Regions from separate parts of the Homo sapiens genome. Here regions 1 and 3 are each linked to region 2. Evidence: fine-mapped expression QTL. A gene starts in region 2. Each other region holds a variant in brackets. All regions are shown on one strand. Distances are between the middles of the regions.

Region 1 (8,180 bases), 26 kb after region 2:
CATGCTGGTGTACTGCACCCATTAACTCGTCATTTAGCATTAGGTATATCTCCTAATGCTATCCCTCCCCCCTCCCCCCACCCCACAACAGTCCCAGGTGTGTGATGTTCCCCTTCCTGTGTCCATGTGTTCTCATTGTTCAATTCCCACCTATGAGTGAGAATATGCGGTGTTTGGTTTTTTGTTCTTGCGATAGTTTACTGAGAATGATGATTTCCAATTTCATCCATGTCCCTACAAAGGACATGAACTCATCATTTTTTATGGCTGCATAGTATTCCATGGTGTATATGTGCCACATTTTCTTAATCCAGTCTATTATTGTTGGACATTTGGGTTGGTTCCAAGTCTTTGCTATTGTGAATAATGCCGCAATAAACACATGTGTGCATGTGTCTTTATAGCAGCATGATTTATAGTCCTTTGGGTATATACCCAGTAATGGGATAGCTGGGTCAAATGGTATTTCCAGTTCTAGATCCCTGAGGAATCGCCACACTGACTTCCACAATGGTTGAACTAGTTTACAGTCCCACCAACAGTGTAAAAGTGTTCCTATTTCTCCACATCCTCTCCAGCACCTGTTGTTTCCTGACTTTTTAATGATTGCCATTCTAACTGGTGTGAGATGGTATCTCATTGTGGTTTTGATTTGCATTTCTCTGATGGCCAGCAGCACATCAAAAAGCTTATCCACCATGATCAAGTGGGCTTCATCCCTGGGATGCAAGGCTGGTTCAATATACGCAAATCAATAAATGTAATCCAGCATATAAACAGAACCAAAGACAAAAACCACATGATTATCTCAATAGATGCAGAAAAGGCCTTTGACAAAATTCAACAACCTTCATGCTAAAAACTCTCAATAAATTAGGTATTGATGGGACGTATCTCAAAATAATAAGAGCTATCTATGACAAACCCACAGCCAATATCATACTGAATGGGCAAAAACTGGAAGCATTCCCTTTGAAAACTGGCACAAGACAGGGATGCCCTCTCTCACCACTCCTATTCAACATAGTGTTGGAAGTTCTGGCCAGGGCAGTTAGGCAGGAGAAGGAAATAAAGGGTATTCAATTAGGAAAAGAGGAAATCAAATTGTCCCTGTTTGCAGATGACATGATTGTATATCTAGAAAACCCCATTGTCTCAGCCCAAAATCTCCTTAAGCTGATAAGCAACTTCAGCAAAGTCTCAGGATACAAAATCAATGTACAAAAATCACCAGCATTCTTATACACCAATAACAGACAAACAGCCAAATCATGAGTGAACTCCCATTCACAATTGCTTCAAAGAGAATAAAATACCTAGGAATCCAACTTACAAGGGACGTGAAGGACCTCTTCAAGGAGAACTACAAACCACTGCTCAATGAAATAAAAGAGAATACAAACAAATGGAAGAACATTCCATGCTCATTGGTAGGAAGAATCAATATTGTGAAAATGGCCATACTGCCCAAGGTAATTTATAGATTCAATGCCATCCCCATCAAGCTACCAATGACTTTCTTTTTTTCTTTTTTTTGAGATGGCATCTCACTCTGTCGCCCAGCCAGGCTACAGTGCAGTGGCACAATCTCAGCCCACTGCAGCCTCCACCTCCTGGGTTCAAGCGATTCTCCCGCCTTAGCCTCCCAAGTAGCTGGGATTACAAGCATGTGCCACCACACCTGGCTAATTTTTGTATTTTTAGTAGAGACAGGGTTTCACCATATTGGTGAACAGGCTGGTGTCGAACTCCTGACCTCAAGTGATCCGTCCACCTTGGCCTCCCAAAGTTCTGGGATTACAGGCGTGAGCCACCATGCCTGGCTGGATGCCATGTATTTTGAGTTTCACCTTGTTAGGTGATGGATATCTACATTCCTGTAAAAATTCTTGAGCTTTGTTGTGGGACAGTTAGATTATTGGAAACAGTCCGGTCCTTTCAGGAGTTCTTCCCATTGGCAGGTCTCGGGGGTGGTCCGGGGCGCCTCCTCCAGGCTTGCTCCTCTCTCCTGGGACAGCTTTTTTGGAGCACCAGGGCACCCTTGAGGCTGCTGATTCAGAGCTCATGCTTGGTGCCTCCGAGAAGTTAGATTTAGAACCTGTGTTACTCAGGGTTCTGATGCTCCTATGGGCTCTGAGCTCATGTCTTGCTTTGCTGGGCCTTGGGGTGAGTCCTCTGTTACCGGCTCATGCTGTGACCAGGTCCGAGGGCACCAGCCTCCTCAAGGTTGAGCCTGCCCTCGTGGGAGCCACGAGACAGGTTCCCCTCACCCCTGGCTGTCAGGAAGGTTGGGAGAGTGTTGGGTCTGGGTTAGTCGGGCTCCCAAGGCTTAGGGTGGTGTTTGTCCCTGTGAGTGGCTGCTCTGTGCTGGCCTTTCCCTCCAGGCCTCTCTGCCCAGAGCCTGCACTGTGAGGAGTCAGAGTGCCCGTTACAATCACTGGGTGACGCTTAGCAGCGGTGGGTGCCTAGTCAGCCCATGCTGGTCCCTGTGCTAGGAAAACACCGCTCAAACACCCAGCCGGGTGGAGAGGATGCAGGTGTACTGGCTGCCTGGAAGTTACCGAGTGCCATCCTTAGCAGCAAACAGAGTATGTTTGCAGATGGTCTGCTGTGCTCCTCTTTTAGTTTCCAGGACCTGGGCCTGCACAGAGGCCTGCCTGTCCTACCCCGGATAGAGTGGATGAAGCCTGTGTGTGTGAACAGCTGTTACTCCTCCCGCTGCGGCAAGGGCTCCGGTGGTGGGAGCCGCCCCCCATGCTGCTGGCCGTGGCCACACAGGACGAAGCTCAGGGATGATTCTTAGATAGTGGCTCTCCCCCGGGGCCCAGCACCGGTCACCTGCAGTCTCATCTTGGTCATCCACAGCGCCGCAGTCACTGTCACCCACAGGAGGTGCCTGGCCGTGGCCTTTGTGGCATTCAGGAGGAAGGGCCCGGCCTGGCTGGCCGCGCGGTGTCAGTGCTGGGCCCCCTGGTGCTGACCTGCAGCCTATGTGCAGGTACGTGCAGCACTACGGCCTGGGCAGTGCCTGTGACAACGTAGAGCGCGTGCTGAAGAGTGTGGCTGTGAAGCTGGGGAAGACGCAGAAGGTGAAGGTGCTCACGGGCACGGGTGAGTGAGGTCGCTGATGCGGGCACCGGAGCCTCACCCCATCACCCTGGGGGACCCCGGCCATCCCTGGAGGAGGCAGGGAGGAGAGGAACGTGTCAAGGAGCATGCGCCGGGTCTTCTGGGAATGGGTTTCAGGGCAGGGGAGCTACAGAAAGTTCTGGAGAGGAAGGGCTTGTAGTCCAGGCTTCCGAGGGTGAGACCAGCCCTGCCGCGTATTGGGCAGTGCTAGGTGGACACCTGCAGGCCTCACATGCCTGGCCTTGGAGGCTCCGGGCAGCGTAGCTCAAGCTGTTTTCTTTCTGAGTGTGATCCCGTTCCCTGGGCTTCCCTGATGCCATCATGGAGCCTCTTAGGGCTGGTCCCTCAGGTGGGTAAG[G/T]GCTGGGCCTGTCCTGCTGTGAAGGCTCCTTCCTCACTGAACCCTCCCGTCCCCCAGGTAACGTGAACATTATTCAGCCTAACTATCCTGCGGCAGCCCGTGACTTCCTGCAGACTTTCCGCCGTGGGCTGCTGGGTTCCGTGATGCTGGACCTCGACGTCCTGCGGGGCCACCCCCCGGCTGAGACTTTGCCCTGAACTTGTCCGGGTAGGGAGGGCCGGAGGCATGTGGCCTCCCAGACCTCCTGACCTGGGTGGTTGAGGCTCAAGACAGCTCACCCGGTCCAGAAGCTCCATGCTGGTCACTAGGGTGCTGTGCTCTCTGGCGCCCCACAGCCTGGCCAGCTCCAGGGACCCCAGTTGCAGGGCCCAAGCAGGTGGGAGTGGACACCAGGCTTCCCAGTGGACGTCCCTGAGCAGCTCCGCATGCTTGGTTCTCCCGGAGCTTCCTGCTCAGGCCTCTTGAGAAATGGATGCTGTCTCAGAAGGAGTTAAAGCTATAACCTGTAACCTTTAAAATCTCCAGTTAAAGGGCCTGTTTCTTACTGGCCTGTGAGGTGCACCGTAGTGCCTTGGGCCTGTGTGTTAAAGCTGCTCTCACCAGTGAAACCTAAGAAATGAGCAGGTTGGCAGCTAGGGTTTGTGTTGGAGGCTTTCGGTCCAGTGTCTTGCAGTCCTACAACAAGTGAGAGGCTTGCTGCCATCAGAGAGGTTTATTTCACACTTACAGGCACACACAGACACAGACCAGAGACTCCCAGCAGCAGAGCCCAAGCACTGGCTTCGCCCCTCAGTGCCCTGGGGCATGTTCAGGGCAGGGTTGAGGGGGACGCCCTGCACATGGCTTTGCTGTGCAATGACTGGAAGGCCGCCCGGCATGGGCAGTAGAGACCCCTGGCCTCTGAGCACCTTCTAGCTCACGGGTAGTGGGATTCTGCATTAGTGGGGCTGAGAGATGTGGGGGCCCCTCCAGCCCCATTATAGTGCACCTGAAGGGGTCCACAGCCTGTGTCCTAGAAGAGGGAAGAGGAAGGAAGGTGGGTGGGGCTGGTAGTATGGACTAAGGTGCTGCAGGACCTGGGGCCAGGGACATCCTGTGCAGAAGCTCCGGCTGCCTCTTTGCGGTGGTGGCCTGACCGTCCCACAGCAGCCTCCACCAGGGCCCTGGTGCTCAGTGGCCCCTCTTTGCTGGCTGGCTGCCTCTGCTGCCCCATACCCCACACACTCATCAGCCTGAAGTTAGCCCCTGAGTGCCACCTGCATCGTGCCATAACCCTGACCGCCTGGGGCAGGAAGTATTCAGGTTGGCTGTGTCAGATGCTAATGTGCTGAATCAACAGTCATTGCAGATCACGAAGTGTCCATCATAACTGGAACATTCCATCAGCTTGCAGTGCTGTGGTGTGTGAGGGTCTGGTGCAGCTCAGCCCATTTTCCAGGTGGGCATCTGCAAAGTTGAGGGGGCTCCGGTGGGTCTCTCTGCTGTGAGGAGACTCAGACCACCCCCTGCCTCCTGGGGGAAATGTCAGAAGGGCTTCTCTGCCTATGAGGATCTGGGGCAGGGCTTGGCCTTGGCCTGCTGGTCTTGGAGGCGTTGAGCTTGGTCTGGAAGGGGTGGAGGAGCGTCTGGGCTCACTGGGCCAGGGGCATTGCTGGCAGTGTGGACGGGAGGCTGCAGGGCGCTGCCTCCTGTGGCTTAGTGCCCTGGAGCTAGAGAGCAGTGCTTGGTTGAGTCCTGCCAACAGCTTCCAGATCCTCACCCAGGCCAGAACCCAGGCCAGCTGGGGAAGGCAGAGGCTGGCAGGGCCCGTGGTGGGTGCTGGTCTTGACTTTGGTGTCCACTGAGTCCCGAGGCTCAGGCCCAGGAGGGATGCAGTCCGGCTGAGGGCGAGGCTGTCCCCAGGACATGGAGAGGGTGAGATCCCAAGGCCACGGCGGGGGGCAGGGAGAACCCCTCCTACCCTGGATGAGTGGGTGACTGGAGAGCTAGAGAACGTGGCAGACCCAAGACCTCTCAGTGCTGAGCCCATGGAGGATGCCCCAGGCTGGCGGGACTGGGAAGCAGAGGGCTGGTCTTAACACAGGTGTGTCCAGTGCTGGAGGCAAGTCCTTGTCGTGACTGTCCAGCGCCACTCCATGTCTCTCCTGTCCTTGGATGTTGGGGGGCTCAGCCTCTTGCATGGGTGTCCTGCTGGGCGCTGGGCCCCGCCACTGGCCCCCTGCTTGCTTTGGGGTCTGAGTTAGCTCCTGGCTCCACTGAGCAGGCCGTCAGCTGCCAGCCCACCACGCGGATACCCAGGCCCTGTTCCGAGGCCTGGAACAGCTGCTTCCGAAGAAGGGGCTGCCTTCAGGGAAATGCGTGCACCGTGCAGCCTGTGCTGTGCCCAGGGAGGCCTCTTCAGCGGGATTGGCAGTTGCTGTGCCCTGAGAACAGGCAGAACTGTGTGATCCCTGAATGTGAACCTGAAGTTCAAAGGACTTGGAAAGCTCTGGAATGTGTTGGTTTTTCCCCCCCAAAATGGGTCCTAAGGAGGGTAAAGTGACTTGTTTCAAGTTGTTGGAGCAAAGTGGGTCTCTCACGGATCTCGGCCTGAGGGTGTGGGGGAGAAGGCCTGGACAGCCCCTCAGGGCAGGGTGTGTTTTCCCACCAGCCGCAGAGAGCCAGGATGGACGTTCCTCGGACGGACGGTTTTCCTGCTTGGGAATGTTCCTGGGCTGTGAGATCCACTCTTCTGGGCAGGTGGTTAGCACCTAACGTTTTTCCCTCACTTCCCCCCAAATTCTTAAGTCCTTTGGTCCATTTCACTGCTTCTTTTGGGGAGGGTCAGATTCCTCAGGGGCTCAGTGGCAGAACCAGCCTGATGTCGCCTCCCTGCCCGTGAGTCACCACGGCCCCTGGGCAGGCGAGGGGAGCCGGGGTGGCTTGGGTTCCTGGCCTTGGCACCTCCCTTTGGGCGGCGATGGAGCGTGGCTGGGCGGTTGGTACAGGAGCCACAGGCAGCTGCCTTTTTGGCTGAGGGGACCCTAACATCCTGGAGTGGGTGGGGCAGGGCCCATGGTCTCCTCTAGGTGGGAGGTGGCAGGCTGAGGCGGCGTGGGCAGGACGGTGGATGGCGGGTCCACAGGGACAGCCAGCAGCTCCTGCACCCAGTGGGGCTCCAAGACCGTGGGCAAGGGAGGAAGGGGGAGCCCAGGCCGGAGGATCCTGGGGGATGGCGCGGGCCGGGGGCCAGATGTGGTCCCCGAGCCCAGCCAGGCCTAGGGCCGCAGCAGCCCCAGGGCTCCGAGGGCGCCGCCCAGCACGAGACAGAGACGCGGGCCGCGCGTGGGTCCAGCGCCCGAAGTCCACGCCCGGTAGCTGTAGATGCCGGGGCCTGTCCCGTTGCCTCCGGGCACCCCGTCCTCCTCGTCCTCCAGGCCGCGTTCCCCGGGTCCCGCGGCCCTTCTCCAGCCCGAGCCCGCCGCCAGGCCCGCGGCCGCTCCCGCCGCCGCCCCGGCTGCCGCCCCGGCGGCAGCCACGCGCAGGGAGGAGCCCGGGGCACCGTAGCGCTGCGCCGGCCTCACGCGCACCCTCGAGGCCCCGCGCGCACCCCCGCGGACCCCTCCCCGGGCACTGCCCCGCGCACCTCCGCGGCCGCCCTTGGCTGCGCCGCTGTCGCAGAGGAAGGCGGCCGCCAGTAGCAGAGCCCAGCACGTTGCGGGTGCCCAGTTCATCTTCGTGGGGCTAAACCTGCGGGAAGAGAGGGAAAGGGCCCTTAGTTTCCATGGAGATCGGGTGCCCAGGGGCGGAGGGCTCAAGGCTGGAGAGCAGAGGGACCCCCATCTTTTGTGGGATCAGGGTGCCCCCAGCATCTTGGAGGCCCACTGAGGCCTGGGGGGGCGCGGTTTAACCTCTAGCATCAGGGACTTAGGCCTGGGGGAGGCGCTGGGAAGTGGCAGGTGGGGCAGGAGGGTTCTGCACCTGAAGGTTGTGCACCTGGATTGGGGGTGTAGAAGCGGGGCAGGAGCGTTCAGGCCTCTGGGGGCGTCCAGGCCCGGGCGGGGGAGCAAGCCTGGGGGAGGGAGCTCTGCACGCGTTGCTGGGATGTGGGGGGCGGGGGGAGGCGGCATGGGGGGAGGGGCGTTGTGTTTGGAGGACGCGGTAGCCGGGACCAAGAGCTGGCTCAGATCAGGGTCTGGAACGGGGACGGGCCGTGCCTGGGCCTGGTCCCCACCTTTGGGGCCAAAGCCTGGGTGCGGGCCTTGCGGATGCTGCGGAGGACAAGCGGCTGCTGACATCGTGCGGACTCCGCCCCAGCAGACCCGTGCCCCAGGGGCAGTCCCTCCCGCGCGCGCCCGGCGCTCAATGCCGTCCCCGGCCGCCTAGTTCAGCAGCTGGCTGGGGGCGGGACGGGGTCGAGTTGCGGGGCCGCGTCCAGACACGGCTGTGCGGGCGACAGCTGCATCCCCTCCCCGCGCCGCCCCTCGCTCCCGGCCCCGTACCCGCCCCAGCCTCCCGGCCTTACCCGCCACGGGCCTCGGTTGGAACCGCGCGCTGGAGTATCCGTCCCTGAGGCCGCGGCCGAGCGGGAAGGAGCGGGCGGGCGGCGGCGCGGACCCTCAGCCGGAGCGCGGAGCCGCGGCGCCTGGGTTTTGCGCGAGGCCTCCGCCCTGGGATTGGGGCGGGCAGTCGCGGAGGCGCATCCCTGGTGAGC
Region 2 (8,180 bases):
TCGAGACCAGCCTGGGCAACATAGTGAGAGTCGGTCTCCACACACACACACACACACACACACACACACACACAAGTAGCCAGGCATGGTAGCATGCACCTGTAGTCCCAGCTGCTCAGGCTTGGGCCCAGGAAGTTGAGGCTGGAGTAAGCTATGACTGCACCACTGGACTCCAGCCTGGGTGTCAGAGCAAGACTCTGTCTCAGAAAACATAAAAATAAAACCATATAACTATGATACCATTTACCCACTTAAAAATTAATAATCATTCCTCAATATGATCCAATATTTAGTCACTGTTCAGTTTTCCAATCAGCTCATGGTCTCTCTTCAGTGAACCTGCTTGGAAATGTTGCTTCTTGAGTTTTCAGTTTCAGGTGTTACTAATTGACTTCTCATTACATCAGATAAGGCTGTAGCTTTCTTCCTCTGCCCACCCGACTCCCAGATCCCTCCCCCACCCTCCCCATATGTGATCCAGGAGTTGAGGCCAGATCACTATTCAGTGTTTACACCCCTTGTTTTCTCTAAAAGCTGTTCACACCTGAGCTGCGGGGTGCAGTGGCTTCCTTTCCCACCCATTGGTGGATGCGTGTGAGCCGTCTTCCCACCCGTTGGTGGATGCGTGTGAGCCGTTTTCCCGCCCGTTGGTGGATGCGTGTGAGCCGTTTTCCCGCCCGTTGGTGGATGCGTGTGAGCCGTTTTCCTGGCTGTTGATGGATACATGTGAGCTGTTTTCCTGCCCGTTGGTGGATGTGTGTGAGCTGTTTTCCTGGCTATTGGTGGGTACACGTGAGCCCTTTTCTCGTCCGTTGGTGGAGGTGTGTGAGCTGTTTTCCTGCTTCTTGGTGGATGCTTGTGAGCCATTTTCTGTGTTTCCTTGCCCAGACCCTGCTGTCTGAATTGCATCCCCATTCTAACCCTGGCTCTTCTTTGCAGCTCCAGATCCTGTTTGCGGGGGAAGCCACACATCGCACGTTTTACTCCACGACGCACGGGGCTCTGCTGTCGGGATGGAGGGAGGCCGACCGCCTCCTCAGTCTGTGGGCCCCGCAGGTGCAGCAGCCCAGGCCCAGGCTCTAGCTGGGCCCAGCCTACTCTGTTCCACCCGTGTCGGGGGTAGGCTGGGACCCTCATTTCTTCTGACAGATTTCAGTCTGGCTTGAAATTTGGGGATGTTAATGAGGGTCCTCTGGTTTTTGGTAACCAGGGCCACCTTCTCAGTTCTTGTGTCTGTTATTGGAGTCTGGCCAGGGTTGACTTGAGCTGAGACACCAGATGCTCACGGAGATGCTGGACACATAAAGCAAGTTACAGCCACAGCTCCCAGAGCCATCTTTCCTGCCTTGAGGCTGTCCTGTCCTTCCTGCCTTGGGGCTCCAGCATCTGCTGCTGTTGTCTTTGTCTTGCTCCGGGCCCAGGTTGCACAGGGCCCTGTGTCTCCAATCCCCACAACCACACATGGCCCCACACTCTGGGTTCCCTGAACTCTGGGTCCTGTAGTTGCTTCTCGTGCCCCTGCATTCTCGTGGCTGCTGCCTGGGATGACAGCATAGCTGACAACCCTCCTCTTGCTCATCAACTGATGCTGCATCAGGCGCCCACTTCACAGGTTCGCAGGGCACTGGGGAGATGAGGGGTGCCCTGCCCTGCCCTGAGGCCGGGGGTTTTCTGGAGGAAGTGAATACATAATAAGGCCTGAAAAGAGAAACGGTGCCCAGCCCATGGGAGCCAGGGAGTGTGTGGGGCGTGGGCAGTGCTGGGGTGAGTGTGCTGGGTGCTGGGGGGTGTTGGGGTGGGGGCAGTGCTGGGGTGCTGGGGGGTGTTGGGGTGTGGGTAGTGTTGGGTGCTGGGGGGTGTTGGGGTGAGTGTGCTGGGTGCCGGGGGATGTTGGGGTGTGGGCAGTGCTGGGGTACCACGTGGTATTGGGGTGAATGTGCTGGGAGTCCAGGCCCCTCTCCGGCCCCTCCACCCCAGCCTGGATCTGCAGGGCTCCTCTCTTCTCACCCTCTGGTCTCTGTTCAAATTGCCCCTCCTAGGATGTTCCCTGACCCCACCCTCCCGAGCCCCAGCCTCCCTCTGTAGCCAGCAGCCCCACCTGCATTTGCTGTGTCACCAGACTGTTCTCTCTGGGGACACCTGCCCATCAGACGCCTGGGAGAGAAATTCAGATTCCACAGGGTTTTATTGTGGTTTTGTGCTCCTAGGACCATGAGGGAATGCAGCTTCCTTAAAGTACAAAAATCTTTATCATTGACATTTAGGGTTTCATCAATTCTGTATCCCAGGGAGAAAGGCAGCAAGACCCAGGCTGCCCCCTCTGGGTGTGAGGGACCGGCTTGGTGAGGAGGGGGCTTGGGGGCATTGACCTAGCAGGAGGCCCTGACTGCCCCCACTCAGCCCAGAAACCACCTGGGAGGCTTCTGTCTTCCACGGAGGGGCCACTCTCTCATGCCCAAAAATATTTACAGCTAGGCGTTAGGGTATTAGGTGGTTTAAGAACATCAGAACCATGGCAATATTTTTGTACTTAGAATTTGAGCATGTTTGGTATTTTCAGTAGCTTGTTTAAAAAATTCCAGTAGAGGCTGGGTGCCATGGCTCATGCCTGTAATTCCAGCACTTTGGGAGGCTGAGGTGGGCAGATCACCTGAGGTCAGAGTTCGAGACTAGCCTGGCCAACATGGTGAAACCCCATCTCTACTAAAAATACAAAAAAAGTAGCCGGGCGTGGTGGTGCGCACCTGTAGTCCCAGCTACTCAGGAGGCTAAGGCAGGAGAACTGCTTGAACCCCGGGAGGCGGAGGTTGCAGTGAGCCAAGATCACGCCACTGCACTCCAGCCTGGCGACAGAGCGAGACTCCGTCTCAAAAATAAAAATTCCGGTAGAGTAATACTCTTGTAACGCAGTGTGCAATTGAGCAGTTGCTGACTGCTGATTTAGAGTTGAAATCCGACTATATTTATGTCTAGTCTTGGACAGTGGAGAATATTTCAGCCTCATTAATTAATCGGTTTAATTTAGCAGAACTGCAGTCAGTATTTGGAAACAGTTTGTTATATTAAACCCTGAAGTACTTGAGGCTGCGCGCGGTGGCTCATGCCTGTAATCCCAGCATTTTGGGAGGCCGAGACAGGTAGATCACTTGAGGTCAGGAGTTGGAGACCAGCCTGGCCAACATGGTGGAACTCCATCTCTACTAAAAATACAAAATCAGCCGGCGTGGTGGCAGGCGCCAGTAATCCCAGCTACTCCGGAGGCTGAGGTGGGAGAATCCCTTGAACTCAGGAGTTGGAGGTTGCAATGAGCGAGATCGTGCCACTGCACTCTTGGGCAACAGAGCGGAGACTCCGTCTCAAACAAAACAAAACAAACAAAAACCCTGAAGTACTTAAAAAGAAAATGAAGAGATTACATTTATAAGGTAAATTTAAAGTATTTGAGAGATTTTAACCAAATTGTAAAAAGAGATTGCTAAATTTTTACACTTATACTCAGGATATGCTTAAGGGAGAACGATGATTTTTAATATTTAATGAATGTTAATAAATCTGCGAATTACTTAAACCCACAAAACCCAGGAACCTCCCCGTCCCCCCGGGTCTCCTCGCAGTCCCGCCCCGACGCTCGACCCACCATTCGTCCCTCCCTCTGGGCCCGGGCCCCGCCCACTCCGGGCTTCGCCGGAGGCGGAGGCAACGTCGTGCGCACGCGCAGGCCGTGGTGCGGCCCCTTGGAGCGCCGGAAGCCCGCAGTGCCGGAGGCCCGCAGCGCCGGAACCTCAGAGGCGGGTCGCAGCGGCGCAGAGGAGGTCAGCTGCGGGAGCGTTTCCGGGGACGGTGCCGCCATGAGATTGACCCCGCGCGCGCTGTGCAGCGCCGCCCAGGCCGCCTGGCGGGAGAACTTCCCCCTGTGCGGTCGCGACGTGGCGCGCTGGTTCCCGGGCCACATGGCCAAGGGTGAGGCACGGCGGGGAGGGGCAAGGTCATGCCTACGGCCGCGGCGCCTCTGCTTCCCTCCCACCCCGGTTTCGGCCGTCGCCTGCTTCTCCCGGTCGTTCTGGGCTGGCCCCGCCCCTCCTCCCTTGTCTCCCCTCCTTCCCCGCTCTCACCCGCTCCCGGAGCCGCCGGGACCCCTTCCCCTGCGCAGCTGCGGGAGAGGCCCGTTCCCGCGAGTGCCCCCGCGGCGCAGCCTCGGACCCAGGGCCTGCTTGACCTCCTACCTCTGGCCCGCCGCCCCTGTCCTCTGTTCCCAGCAAGTTCCTTCTGCCCTTTTAATCCCCCGAAGCCTCCGTTTCCACATGTTCTTGACAAGATAGACTTTTCTGAGTCTTTTGGGGACTAAATGAAACAGTGGGTATGAAGGCACCTGTTCAGTTTTAACTGGTATCTTGAGTCGTTCTCCTGCTTAACGTCTTTGGTAATTCTTACTGTTTGTCACAATTCGGCCCCAAGAAGACCTCTGGGGCCAGCCCAGCCCGTCTAGGTGTTGTGATGGCCACTCCTGCGTCGGCTCCGCGTGTACTGGGGGCCGAGGGGGAAGAAGGGCCCGTGTGGGTGACTGAGGCTGTGTCCTCGGTCTTCGGATAACACTGGAGGGGAAGAAAGCTGGAAGCTTTGTTATCTTGGTTGTGTGTGGTATTCCTGGTTAGGGGACTATCGTCATCATCCCCGCGAGGTAGCAGGGGCCTAATGAGCCAGTGTTACTCTGTGTTATAGCCCAGATTAAGACCCGTGGAAGGGCCCGGCCCGGTGGCTCACGCTTGTAATCCCAGTACTTTGGGAGGCCGAGGTGGGCAGATCACGAGGTCAGGACATCGAGACTATCCTGGCCAGCATGGTGAAACCGTGTCTCTACTAAAAATACAAAAAATTAGCCCGGCATGGTGGCGCGTCCCTGTAGTCCCAGCTACTCGGGAGGCTGAGGCAGGAGAATTGCTTGAACCTGGCAGGCGGAGGTTGCAGTGAGCCGAGATCGTGCCACTGCACTCCAGCCTGGGTGACAGAGCAAGACTCCGTCTCAGAAAACAAAAAAGCGACCCATGCACGTTAAATATTCCACCCAGAGTCAGCCATGAGTCAGGTGGTGAAGACCGCATCTGGCTTTTGACACATGGCCCACCCTGTGGCAGGGTGCCTCCCAGTCTCCCACTCCGAGGGTGCGGACCTTGGAGGAGGCGCTCAGCGGATGTTATCTGTTACCATTACTTAGTACGCTTCCCTCAGATATAGTCTTTTTAGGTTATTTATGGTGGCGTGTCATTCTGGACGGTTCAGCTTGAATCGATCACTCTAGAAAGGTTGTGAGCCCCTTCGCTGAGGCGTCCTTCTGTTTTCCAGGGCTGAAGAAGATGCAGAGCAGCCTGAAGCTGGTGGACTGTATCATCGAGGTCCACGATGCCCGGATATCCTTTCACAGAGCAGGGGAGGCCCCTCTGCCTGAAGTCATATTACACATTAGAATTACCTGGGGAGGCTTTTAAAAATATGAATTGCGAGGCCCCTTTCTAGACCAGTTAATCAGAATCTGTGATGTGGGGTCCAGACTGCGTGTCTTTGAAACTTCATTGTTAATACATATATCTGCGTCACTCAAGCCTGACGGTACGGTGCAGCAGTGGAATCCTCTAGATGGGCTATGAAACTGTTTAAATGTTCCTGCCAACTGGGGCTTTTCTCCTGTACTTGAGGAATGAATTGGCAGGATGTGATGATTCGTTCACTGATGGCAAGAAAAAAAGTTGGTTGGCTGGTAAAGCTTTGGAGGAATTTTTACCTTAATTTTGCCACATCCCACTTTCAGGCCGCAACCCTCTGTTTCAGGAAACCCTTGGGCTTAAGCCTCACTTGCTGGTCCTCAACAAGATGGACTTGGCGGATCTTACAGAGCAGCAGGTAAAGGCCTTTCTCTCAGACGCCTTCAGCAGTGTGGCTGTGTTTTCCCGAGGTCGCTTGTTCTAACGGAAGAGTTGCCGGACGCACACTTGTCAGTTTGCCCAGGCAGGCTCTGCTTTAGAAACAGCCCTTTGCTTTGCAGAAGCGTGCCAGCATCGTTTCTCATATGGCGTGCCCCCATCTAATGTGTGGTTCGTGACCTGGACACCCAGGGAGTGCACGTCTCCTGTGGGAAGTGGCCAGGTTGTGCTGCCAGAGCCCGAGTGGTCAGTGAGTGCGCATTGTGGGCAGCAAGCCACCCAGGTGCCGAGGCAAGAGACCGAGGACACGAGCTTTTCCAGTGTAATAAAACATATGAAATAAGAATAGTTATACTAGATATAGGTCATAGATATGATTGTATATGAATATTACTAATCATTAGTTTGTAGCAATTACTCTTCATTCCAATATTATTATAATTCTTGCTCTATAATCATAACCTAGGAAAAACCAGGCCATACAGAGATAGGAGCTGAGGGGACATAGTGAGACGTGACAAGTGTGTGAGCCTTCTGTTATGCCCAGACAGGGCCACCAGAGGACTCCTTGGTCTAGCGGTAACGCCAGTGTCTGGGAAGACGCCCGTTGCCAAGCCGACTGTGGTCTAGCGGTAGCGTCAGTGTCAAGGAAAAGCACCCGCTACTTAGCAGACCGGGAAAGGGAGTCTCCCTTTCCCCAGGGGAGTTTAGAGAAGACTCTACTCCTCCACCTCTTGTGGAGGACCTGACATCAGTCAGGCCTGCCCGCAGTTATCCGGAGGCTTAACTGTCTCCCTGTGATGCTGTGCTTCAGTGGTCACGCTCCTAGTCCGCCTTGATGTTCCATCTTGTACACCTGGCTCTGTCTTTTAGATAGCAGTAGCAAAATTAGTGAAAGTACCGAAAGTCTCTGATAAGCAGAAATAATGGCGTAAGCTGTCTCTCTTTCTCCCTCTCTCTCTGCCTTGGCTGCCAGGCAGGGAAGGGCCCCTTGTCCAGTGGACACATGACCCACGTGACCTTACCTGTCATTGGAGATGGCTCACACTCCTTACCCTGCCCCTTTTGCTTTGTATCCAATAAATATTAGTGCAGCCAGACATTTGGGGCCACTACCGGTCTCTGCATCTTGGTGGTAGTGGTCCCCCAGGCACAGCTGTCTTTTCTTTTATCTCTTTGTCTTGTGTCTTATTTTCTTTTTTTTTTTTTGAGGCAGAGTCTTGCTCTGTCGCCCAGGCTGGAGTGCAGTGGCGCAATCTTGACTCACTGCAAGCTCTGCCTCCCGGGTTCACGCCATTCTCCTGCCTCAGCCTCCTGAGCAGCCGGGACTACAGGCGCCCGCCACCATGCCCGGCTAATTTTTTGTATCTTTAGTAGAGACGGGGTTTCACTGTGTTAGCCAGGATGGTCTCAATCTCCTGACCTCATGATCCGCCCGCCTCGGCCTCCCAAAGTGCTGGTATTACAGGCGTGAGTCACTGCGTCCAGCCTGTTTTTTTTTTTTTTTTAAATCATCGCAAGTGTTTTCACTAGTTGGTACTTTTACGTCATATCAGTGGCAACTCCTGCCTTTGAAAATGTGACTTTTTGTAGACTGGTGGGTGGCCGTCTAGTATAGGGCACAGCAGTGTCTGACCTGGTCAGAGAAAGGCCAGTGCTTCTGAAGAATCGGGAGAGAGGTAGACTTGCCCCTGGGTGGCCCTGCCTTCTGCCTCCCTGAGCAGGGACACCCAAGTACATTTACTACCCAGAGTGTGTGGCTTCAGGTGTGTGTCTTATGTTTGATCTCTCCATCCGTGTCATCTTCGTGGACAGCTAAATAAAACCAGCTGAATCAGTGAAGGACTTGTTGATTTAAACATCAGTCATACTTTAGGTCAGATGATTAACAGCACTGATGTTTAGAAATATGATACTGCTTTGCACTAGTTTCACTGCATGTTAAGGCCAGTGAATTCAAAAATTATCTGGGCGTGGTGGCGCATGCCTGTAATCCCTGCTACTTGGGAGGCTGAGGCATGAGAATCGCTTGAACCAGGGAGGCGGAGGTTGCAGGGAGCCGAGATTGTGCTACTGCACTCCAGCCTGGGTGACAGAGCCAAGACTCCAGTAAAAAAAGTAACATAGAAATGTTTTGTGTCTTTCAGAAAATTATGCAACACTTAGAAGGAGAAGGCCTAAAAAATGTCATTTTTACCAACTGTGTAAAGGATGAAAATGTCAAGCAGGTAGGCTTTTCGTCTGTGCTCTCTCTGACGCTTCTGC
Region 3 (8,180 bases), 120 kb after region 2:
CAGGACTTCAACAAGCAGAACAATATATTCAGAATTGGTAGACCAGGAGGAAGAGAGGGAGAAAGGGACACAAAACATATTCAAAGAAATGATGGGGAAAAACCTCCCAAGCTTAGGGAAATAAATTGAAATCAAGATTCAGGAAACTCAGATGACACCAAATAGGAAAAATCCAGAGACACACATTTGAGACATATTATAATCAAATTGTTAAAAATTTAGACAAAGAGAGAATTTTGAAAGCAACAAGGGACAGCAAATAGTTACACAAAAGGGATGCCCACCGTGTAAGATATCCATGGATTTTCTTTTTCCAGAAACTTTATAGGCCAGGAAGGAGCTGGATGATATATTCAAAATCCTAAAAGAAAAAAAAATTACTGCCCAAGAATACCATACCTAGTAATACTATCTTTCAAAAATGAAGGCAAGAATAAGACTTTCTCAAACAAACAAAAGTCGAGGAAGGATATCACCATTAGATGTGCCTTACAAGAAATTCTAGGAATTCTTCAAGCTGGATTAAAAGGATACTAATTGATAGGATAAAAATACAAAAATAAAAAACTTACTGGTAAAAGTAAGTACATTGTCAGATTCAAACTAGTAATCAGGCAATGGTCTTCTGTAAAACAATTCTATCTCTAGTACAAAGGTTAAAAGATAAAGCAATTAAAAACAACCATAGCTACAATAATCTGTTGAGAGATACAAATGATGAAATGATATAAATTGTGACATCAAAAGCATAAAATATGAGGTGGGGGAGTAGAAATGTAGAGTTTATTTATGCAATCAAAATTAAGCTTTTATCAGCTTAAAAATAGCTGGTTATAAACATAAGATGTTTTCTGCAAGCCTCAAGTAACCACAAAGCAAAAATCTGTAGTAGATACACAAAAGATAAGAAGAAAATAGTCAAAGCATATCACTATAGACAAGCGTCAAACCATCTAAGATCAAGAACAAGACAAGGATGCCCACTCTCACCACTTCCATTCAACGTAGTACTACTGTCAGTCTTAGCTAGAGTAATTAGGCAAGAGCAAGAAATAAAAGGCATCCAGATTGGAAAGGAGGAAATAATACGGTTCCTGTTTGCAGATGACATGATATTACGTACAGAAAACCATAAAGACTACATCAAAACTACTAGAACTGATAAATAATTGCATTGAGGGAATTGTTTTGTACCCGTTTATGGTGGGAGTTACATAAAATATAATATATACTACAATAAATATAATAAATATACTCTATATTATAAATATAATATATATAATACATATAATAGCATTATATTTCATAGATCTGTACACCAAAGGAAAAGAAGTCTATTTTACATATGATGATTTTGAAAAATAAAAGAACGGAAAGTAGTATGGAGACTTCTGTTTAATGATAGTAGATGCGTGTCATTTTTATTATACTCTCCTCTTTTGAAACTAGCCAAGAATAACAATGGAACAAAAAAGAAAATTCCAAAATTAGTGCAGCAGGGAAATTGCCATGAGCACCATCACATCCTGAATCTTAGCTTTGAACAACTTGTCTGCAACAAATGAAGAGAATGCAGAGACCCCAGATATGCCTTTCGAGGCCTTTGGTAGGTCACATATTTCTCCAAATTCATGTCAGACCCAACAGTGCATGATTAAAACAGTGAGCAACCAATGCAAGGAGGTGTCTGAGAAGGTGCTCCTGCCACGGTCATGAGGACACATGTGTCAGCTCCTCAACTGTTCCAAAAAGCATGAGAGATGTGAAGCAGAGCCACACAAGACCTTCAGGAAGGCAGGACCACTCCACCCACCCCACCTGCAACAGGCCACTCATCCCAGCCTAGTCTGGATTAGGAGAGAGTTCTGGGAGTTTCCTTGCACAGAAATAACTGATACCATGTTTATGAATTAGAGCAGTCATTGTTGCAACATATCCGTTCTCCACAAATTGATCTATAGATTGAGTGCGATTCCAGACATTTCAGTAGTTTTTGGTAGAAATGGACAAGATGACTTTAAAATGTAGGTAGAAATGCAAAGGGCCAAGAATATCCCCTAGGAGAGGAACAAAGTTGGAAGAGTTACACTATCAGATATCAAGAGTAATTTTTAAAATGTTCTAAATAAGACAGTGTGGGATTGGTGCAAGGAGGGACAAATAAACCAATGGAGCCACACAAAGTGCAGACTCACACATGCATAGAAGCTTGACTTATGACTTGTGCTTACCTTACGTTACAGCAATTTCACTTTTAGATATATAAACAACAGAGGTAAGCAACGCAGGTGCATTAAAAGGCAGGCACTGAAATTTCATGACAGCATTATTTGCATAGTGAAAAAGTAGAAAAAACAGTATTGTTTGGGGTATAATTGATGCATCATGCTATACTCACAGAGTGGAATAATATATAGCAGTGAAAAAGAATGAACTACTTCTACAAATAACACAAACATGAAGTTAAGTTCACAAACATGAGTGAATCACACAAACATGAAGCTAAGTAAAAGAATTAAGACACAAAGAATGCATACTGTGTGATTCAGCGAATGTTACATAAAGTCTAAAAGTGGCCAGGACTATTCTGTGGTATTAAAAGGTAGGATAAACTCCCCTAGGACTAGGGGAGGAGTTGGTGACAGCCAGTGATGTTTTTCCGAGGGCGGGTGATGTTTCTACTCTGAAAGCCCTTCGGCATGGCCACACTCATGTTGTGATAACCCATCAGGCTATACACTTAGCATACTTTTCCTTATGTATTTGATAGTATTGAGATTACAACAGCTGCAGTATTTATAGATAAATGCACTAAACAGGACACAGAGAGGTAGTAGACAATTATAAAAGGCATAATTTATGAAGAAGATGTAACAGCCACAAATCTCTATTTACCAAAAACATGGAACTAAATATTTGAACTGAGATCTACTAGAAATAAAAAAAGAACTAGACCATAGTTCTATGACAGTGGCAACCTTCAAAACACAGTTTCAGAATTGGACAAATTTAGTACAAGAAGCAAATATGGAAAAAACTGAATAATGTAATCATTAAACTTACTTTTTAAACAGAAGATAACGTTTTGTTTGTGTGTTCATGTCCCAATTACAAAAATCAATTTTGTACTTGGGAACAAAGTAAACCTTATCAAATTATAAAAAGTAAACACTTTACAGTCCACATTCTTTGATCTTAAGTCAACAAAGTTAGAAATAGTTAAAAGGTAACTTCCCCAATCTTCATTAATTAGAAATTGAAATCAGATTACTGAAAAAAGTAAGAACTTTTGAAACTGATGTACACTGGTGATGTCCTCATATCTATTATTGGAAGTGCCTTATTGCCAGCTTTTCACATTGTGCTGTCATCATCATTTAACGGACTCTTTTGCAAATTGATCTAACTCTTGCAACATATTATCATTCGATTTCATACAAAGGTTATTCCCTGGCATGCACTTGAGGAGTCTGGGCTTTGTGGGAGTTGTTTCTGGGCATATATTAACCTACAAAATATACGACACAGAAGATTGTCCTTGTAAATAGAGTTTTAAGTTTAAAAAATACAAACTATGGAGTGTTAGACAGGACTCTATTTCCTAGGCTATGAATACAACTGACATATCTTCTGCATATGAAACATCCAAATGAGATAAATATATTAAAAGCACCACAACTTCCACATGATTTAAATCCAGAAAATAATTCCCCAGGTTTCTGAAATGCTTCTCACAGTCTTGGCAATTTCAAGATGCCACTGGAGTATTATAGGATGTCTCCATGCCATGATTGTCCTTAAAATCTCAGAAATAGATGCTAGAAAATTACTTTAAAAGATGTTGCATAAGTGGAAGTTACTGATTCTCTCCTTATCTAGTGCTCTGTGGAGGGACACAATCAAGGAGGAACTTCTGCCTCTGAAAATTACAGGCGATCCCACAGCATTCCTGGAGCTTGGAAGGGCTGGAAAGACAGGGTCTGCCGAAGACTGAGGCTAAATTAGAACCTCAGGGAATGCTGT[C/A]CTCCTCCACACTCCATAATCTCACTGACAAGCATCATATAAAAATATCAGTGGAATAGAGCTGGTGGAGCTGCAAGAGAGAGCCTCTCTCCCAGGAGCAAAGAGAGAGCGAAAGCGATGCATGCAGACAAACTCGAAGTATGTCTAGGGGAATCAGGAGCTGCTGGTACATGTTCACACAGAAACAACAAACTTGCGACTCAGCCTAACCCCCATTAAGATGAGCACAAGCCCCCACACATAAAGAACTAGCAAAATAAAATGTGTGCTCTTCTCAAAGCATAAAACACTTTTGACCTTAGTATCTACTGTCTTACACAAGATGTCCAGTATGCAAAAAAGCAAGGAAAAACAGAAGACATAAAATAATCATTACTGCTAGACTCGGATATGACACAGGTGGTGGAACTATCAGAAAGGGAATTTAAAACAACTCAGTAATATGCTAATGGTCCTAATGAAAAAGACAGACCATACGCAAGATCAGGTAGGTCATTTTAGCAGAGAGCTGGAAACTATAAACATGAACGTCATGGGAACAATAGAAATTTTAAACCACAGCACTAGAGAAGAAAAATGCCTTCAAAAGGCTCACCAGGAAACTGGCACAGCTCAGGAAAGACTAACTTGAAGATAGAGCAATAGAAACTGTATGACTCCATTTACATGAAATAGCCAGAATAGGTCAATTCCTAAAGACAGAACACAGACTGGTGATTGCCAGGGACTAGGAGCAGGGAGAAATGGAGAGAAGCTGCTTGATGGGTATGAGGTTTTATTCTGGAATGATGAGGATGTTTTGGAAGCAGAGGTGGCGGTTGCACAATATTGTGTATGTACGAAATGCCACTGAGTTGTTCATTTTAAAACGATCCATTTTCTGTTAAATGAATTTCACCTCAATACATTTTAAAAAATAATAAATGGGAAAATTAATGTAATTTTCTGTATTAACAGGCTGAATAAGAAAAATTATATTGTCTTTTCAAAAAATACTGTAAAAACAATAAAATTCATCCTCCATTCCCACTAAAAATTCACAGCATTCTAGGAATAGAAAAGAATGTCCCTACCTTAACAAAGGGCAACTACAAAAACTTACGGCTAACATCATACTTGAAGATAAGTGGGTAAATGCTTTCCCCCAAGACTGGAAAAAATGTCAACAGTTCCTCTCGCACCACTTGTATTAGTGTGCTCTCACGCTGCTAATAAAGACATACCTGACACTGGCTAATTTATAAAGGAAAGAGGTTTAATGGACTCACAGTTTCACATGGCTGCGGAAGCCTCATGGTCATGGTGGAAGGCGATGGAGGAGCAAAGTCACATCTCACATGGTGGTAGGTAAGAGAGCTTGTGCAGGGGAACTCCCATCTGTAAAACCATCAGATCTCGTGAGATTTATTCACTACTGTGAGAACAGTCTGGGGGAAACTGCCCCATGATTCAGTGATCTCCACCTGGCCCTGCCCTTGACATGTGGGGATTATTACAATTCAAGGAGAGAGTTGGGTGGGGACACAGCCAAACCATATCTCCACTCCTATTCAATACTGTGCAGTAAGTCAAGAAAAAGAAATAAAAGGCAGGCAGATTGGAGAAGAAGAAATAAATCTGTTTTCATTCATAGGTTATATAATTATCTATATGGAAATCCCTACATATTTACCCCCAAAAGCTACTGGAAACTAATAAATGGGTTTAGCAAGACTAGAATATAAAGTCAATGTACAAAAGGCAATTGTATTCCTATGTACCAGCAATGAATAACTAAATAGGAAACTAGAATTTTTAAATAAAATTAAATGTTTAAAAAACATTTACAATAGCAACATATGAAGCACTTAGATATTAATTTAATAAAATATATGCAGGATATGTCATGTTCATGGGTTGGAAAAGATTCTTGTTAGTGCATCAATTGTCCCCAGTTTTATCTATAAATTCAATGCTATTCTAATCAATATCTTAGCAATCAGATATTGATCAAATAATTCTAAAATCTATGCAGAAAGGCAAAGGAACTAGAATGGTCAAAACAACTATGAAAAAGAACAAAGTTGTAGGACTCTCGTTACCTAATTTATTCCCGCTGCCCAATTTAAAGATGTAAACTGGGTAGCAAGAGTCCTTCAGCTTGAGGTACAGTAAAAAAGAGTATGATTTTGGTGAAAGACAAAGACAAGTTAATGGGTCAGGATAGACAGCCCAGAAATAGACCCAGACAAATATACCTGTTTTTACATAGGTGCAGTAGCAACTTGATGGACAAAGGGTAGTCTTTTCAACAAACAGTGCTGGGAAAATCGAGTGTCCACATGCAAAACAAATAAACCTTGACATATACGTCATACTTCATTAAAAATTAAACTTTCCCAGTGCTTTGGGAGACCAAGGTGGGAATATCGCTTGAGGCCAGGAGTTCCAGACCAGCCTGGGCTACATAGTGAGACCCTGTCTCTAAAAAAAAAAAAAATTAACCAGGCTTGGTGGCACGCACCTGTAGTCCCAGCTACTTGGGAGGCTGAGGTGGGAGGATTGCTTGAGCCTAGGAGATTGAGGCTGCAGTGAGCCAAGATCTCACCTCTGCACTCCAGCCTGGGCAATAGAGGGAGACTGTGTCTCAAACACACACACACACAACACCTGGTTTTTCTTTTTTTAAAAAAAAATTAACAAGATAAAAGTAGGGAAGGCAGGAGACCTTTGAGCCCGAGAGTTTCTATCCTGAACTTTGATTGTAAGGATGTTTTAATTCAGGTGACATTTGGACATACGTATGCAACTTTAACACTGAATTATGCCAACATTCATGACTTTTCTTTAAATTCTCTTAAGTTATTTAATATCGTATCACGTTTTTACACAGAGTAGTTGAACTGTCTGACTTTTTTGCACTTTAATTTTACATTAATGGTTTTATTCTAGATTAGTTTCTCCATTTAAATTATCCAATGAAGATTTGGTTCCTTAGTTTTTTTGTGGGGGGTTCATATCCATTATTTTTAACTCATTATGACTTCTGCCAATGTGAATTTTCCTTTGTGGCCAATATTTCTTCCAATCCTATATTTAAAGGAAAAGCTTTATTAGACAAATTAAATTTAACAGAGTTTAATTAGGCCAGAATAGGCTCAGAGAGACTGCAGTGGAGCCACGTGGTGGAAGATTTATGAACAGAAAAGAAATGTAGAGAAAATGAAAATGAGGTCTAGAAACAGCTGGATTGTTTACAGCTCTGTGTTTGCCGTATTTGAACACAGTTTGAACAGTTGCCTGCTCTCAATTTCTGTACAGCCTCGTCACCGATGGTCTGCATACCACACTCTAGGGAGCACTGTGCTAGGCCATACAGTAAGTTCAGTAAACTGTACAAAACTTATATACACACCACATTCTCTGACAACAATGGAATTAAATTAGACATCAGTAAAAGTATAAACTAACAATCTTCATAAAATTATTTTATTTTTAGCTGTGGTATTGGCATTGTAAGTAGTTTGAGAGAGATTAGAGAGAGTAAGGTCTTAACTCTAAAGATGCAACAAAATTAACTGCATTTTGACCATTGTTGAATTTGAGTGTTAGCTATGTGGGGGTGCTTTATCTTTCTCTCACTGTTTTTTCACATTTGAAATTTTCTCTAATTAAAAAATAATTTCTATATATTTTGAAAAATACCCCATTTGCACATGAATCATGAATCAAGGGATGGAGATTAAGAAAGCACACAGAGCTCAGTGAATAATGGAACCGTTAAATATCAGCACTTGGGGAAGCAGTAACAGAAGATCTTACAGGTAAATATATAATCATAAGTCCTTGTACTAAGAAAGACGGACTGAAAATTAATAAGCCAAATGTCCAACTGAAACTAAGCAGCATACTGGACCCAAAGAAGGGCAGAAATCATGAAATACAAAATAATGAGGAAATAGAGAGGAACACAACCAAGGCTTGCTATTTGAAAAAGATTAATAAAGTAGAGAAACTGCTTCTGAGACTACTTAAGCACAAAAAAGCACAAATAAACAATGTTTGGGATGTCAAAGGAACATAATGATAAATACAACCATGACTGTAAACATAAGACAATACTAAAACAAATTTATGTGAATAAATTTGACAGCTTACAAGAAATCACAATTCCTAGA

The links.
Region 1: its variant is fine-mapped to the expression of MTG1 in whole blood (TOPMed, PIP above 0.99).
Region 3: its variant is fine-mapped to the expression of MTG1 in adrenal gland (GTEx, PIP above 0.99). The same link has a PIP of 0.9 or more in transverse colon.

What each region holds. Positions count from the first base shown.
Region 1 is chr10:133,416,482-133,424,661 of GRCh38, forward strand. It overlaps MTG1 (mitochondrial ribosome associated GTPase 1), which reads left to right. Exons shown (of 11, transcript NM_138384.4): 10 at 2,999-3,111; 11 at 3,545-6,039. The coding sequence ends at 3,684. SPRN (shadow of prion protein) reads right to left here and starts at 8,144. Exons shown (of 2, transcript NM_001391974.1): 1 at 7,992-8,144; 2 at 4,185-7,216. The coding sequence starts at 7,200. The coding sequence ends at 6,745. It overlaps LOC124902564 (a long non-coding RNA gene), which reads left to right and starts at 8,089. Exons shown (of 2, transcript XR_007062397.1): 1 at 8,089-8,180. RefSeq lists enhancers at 6,522-7,141, 7,960-8,180. The variant G/T (reference allele first, on the strand shown) is at 3,488.
Region 2 is chr10:133,390,373-133,398,552 of GRCh38, forward strand. It overlaps MTG1 (mitochondrial ribosome associated GTPase 1), which reads left to right and starts at 3,785. Exons shown (of 11, transcript NM_138384.4): 1 at 3,785-3,960; 2 at 5,341-5,405; 3 at 5,791-5,895; 4 at 8,063-8,143. The coding sequence starts at 3,849. PAOX (polyamine oxidase) reads left to right here. Exons shown (of 7, transcript NM_152911.4): 7 at 940-1,322. The coding sequence ends at 1,083. RefSeq lists silencers at 3,577-3,926, 3,987-4,186 and an enhancer at 4,511-5,465.
Region 3 is chr10:133,508,929-133,517,108 of GRCh38, forward strand. It overlaps LOC105378575 (a long non-coding RNA gene), which reads right to left. Exons shown (of 5, transcript XR_946512.3): 3 at 5,292-5,400; 4 at 285-361. Among named protein-coding and RNA genes, the nearest start is that of CYP2E1, 14 kb to the right of the region's middle. The variant C/A (reference allele first, on the strand shown) is at 4,024.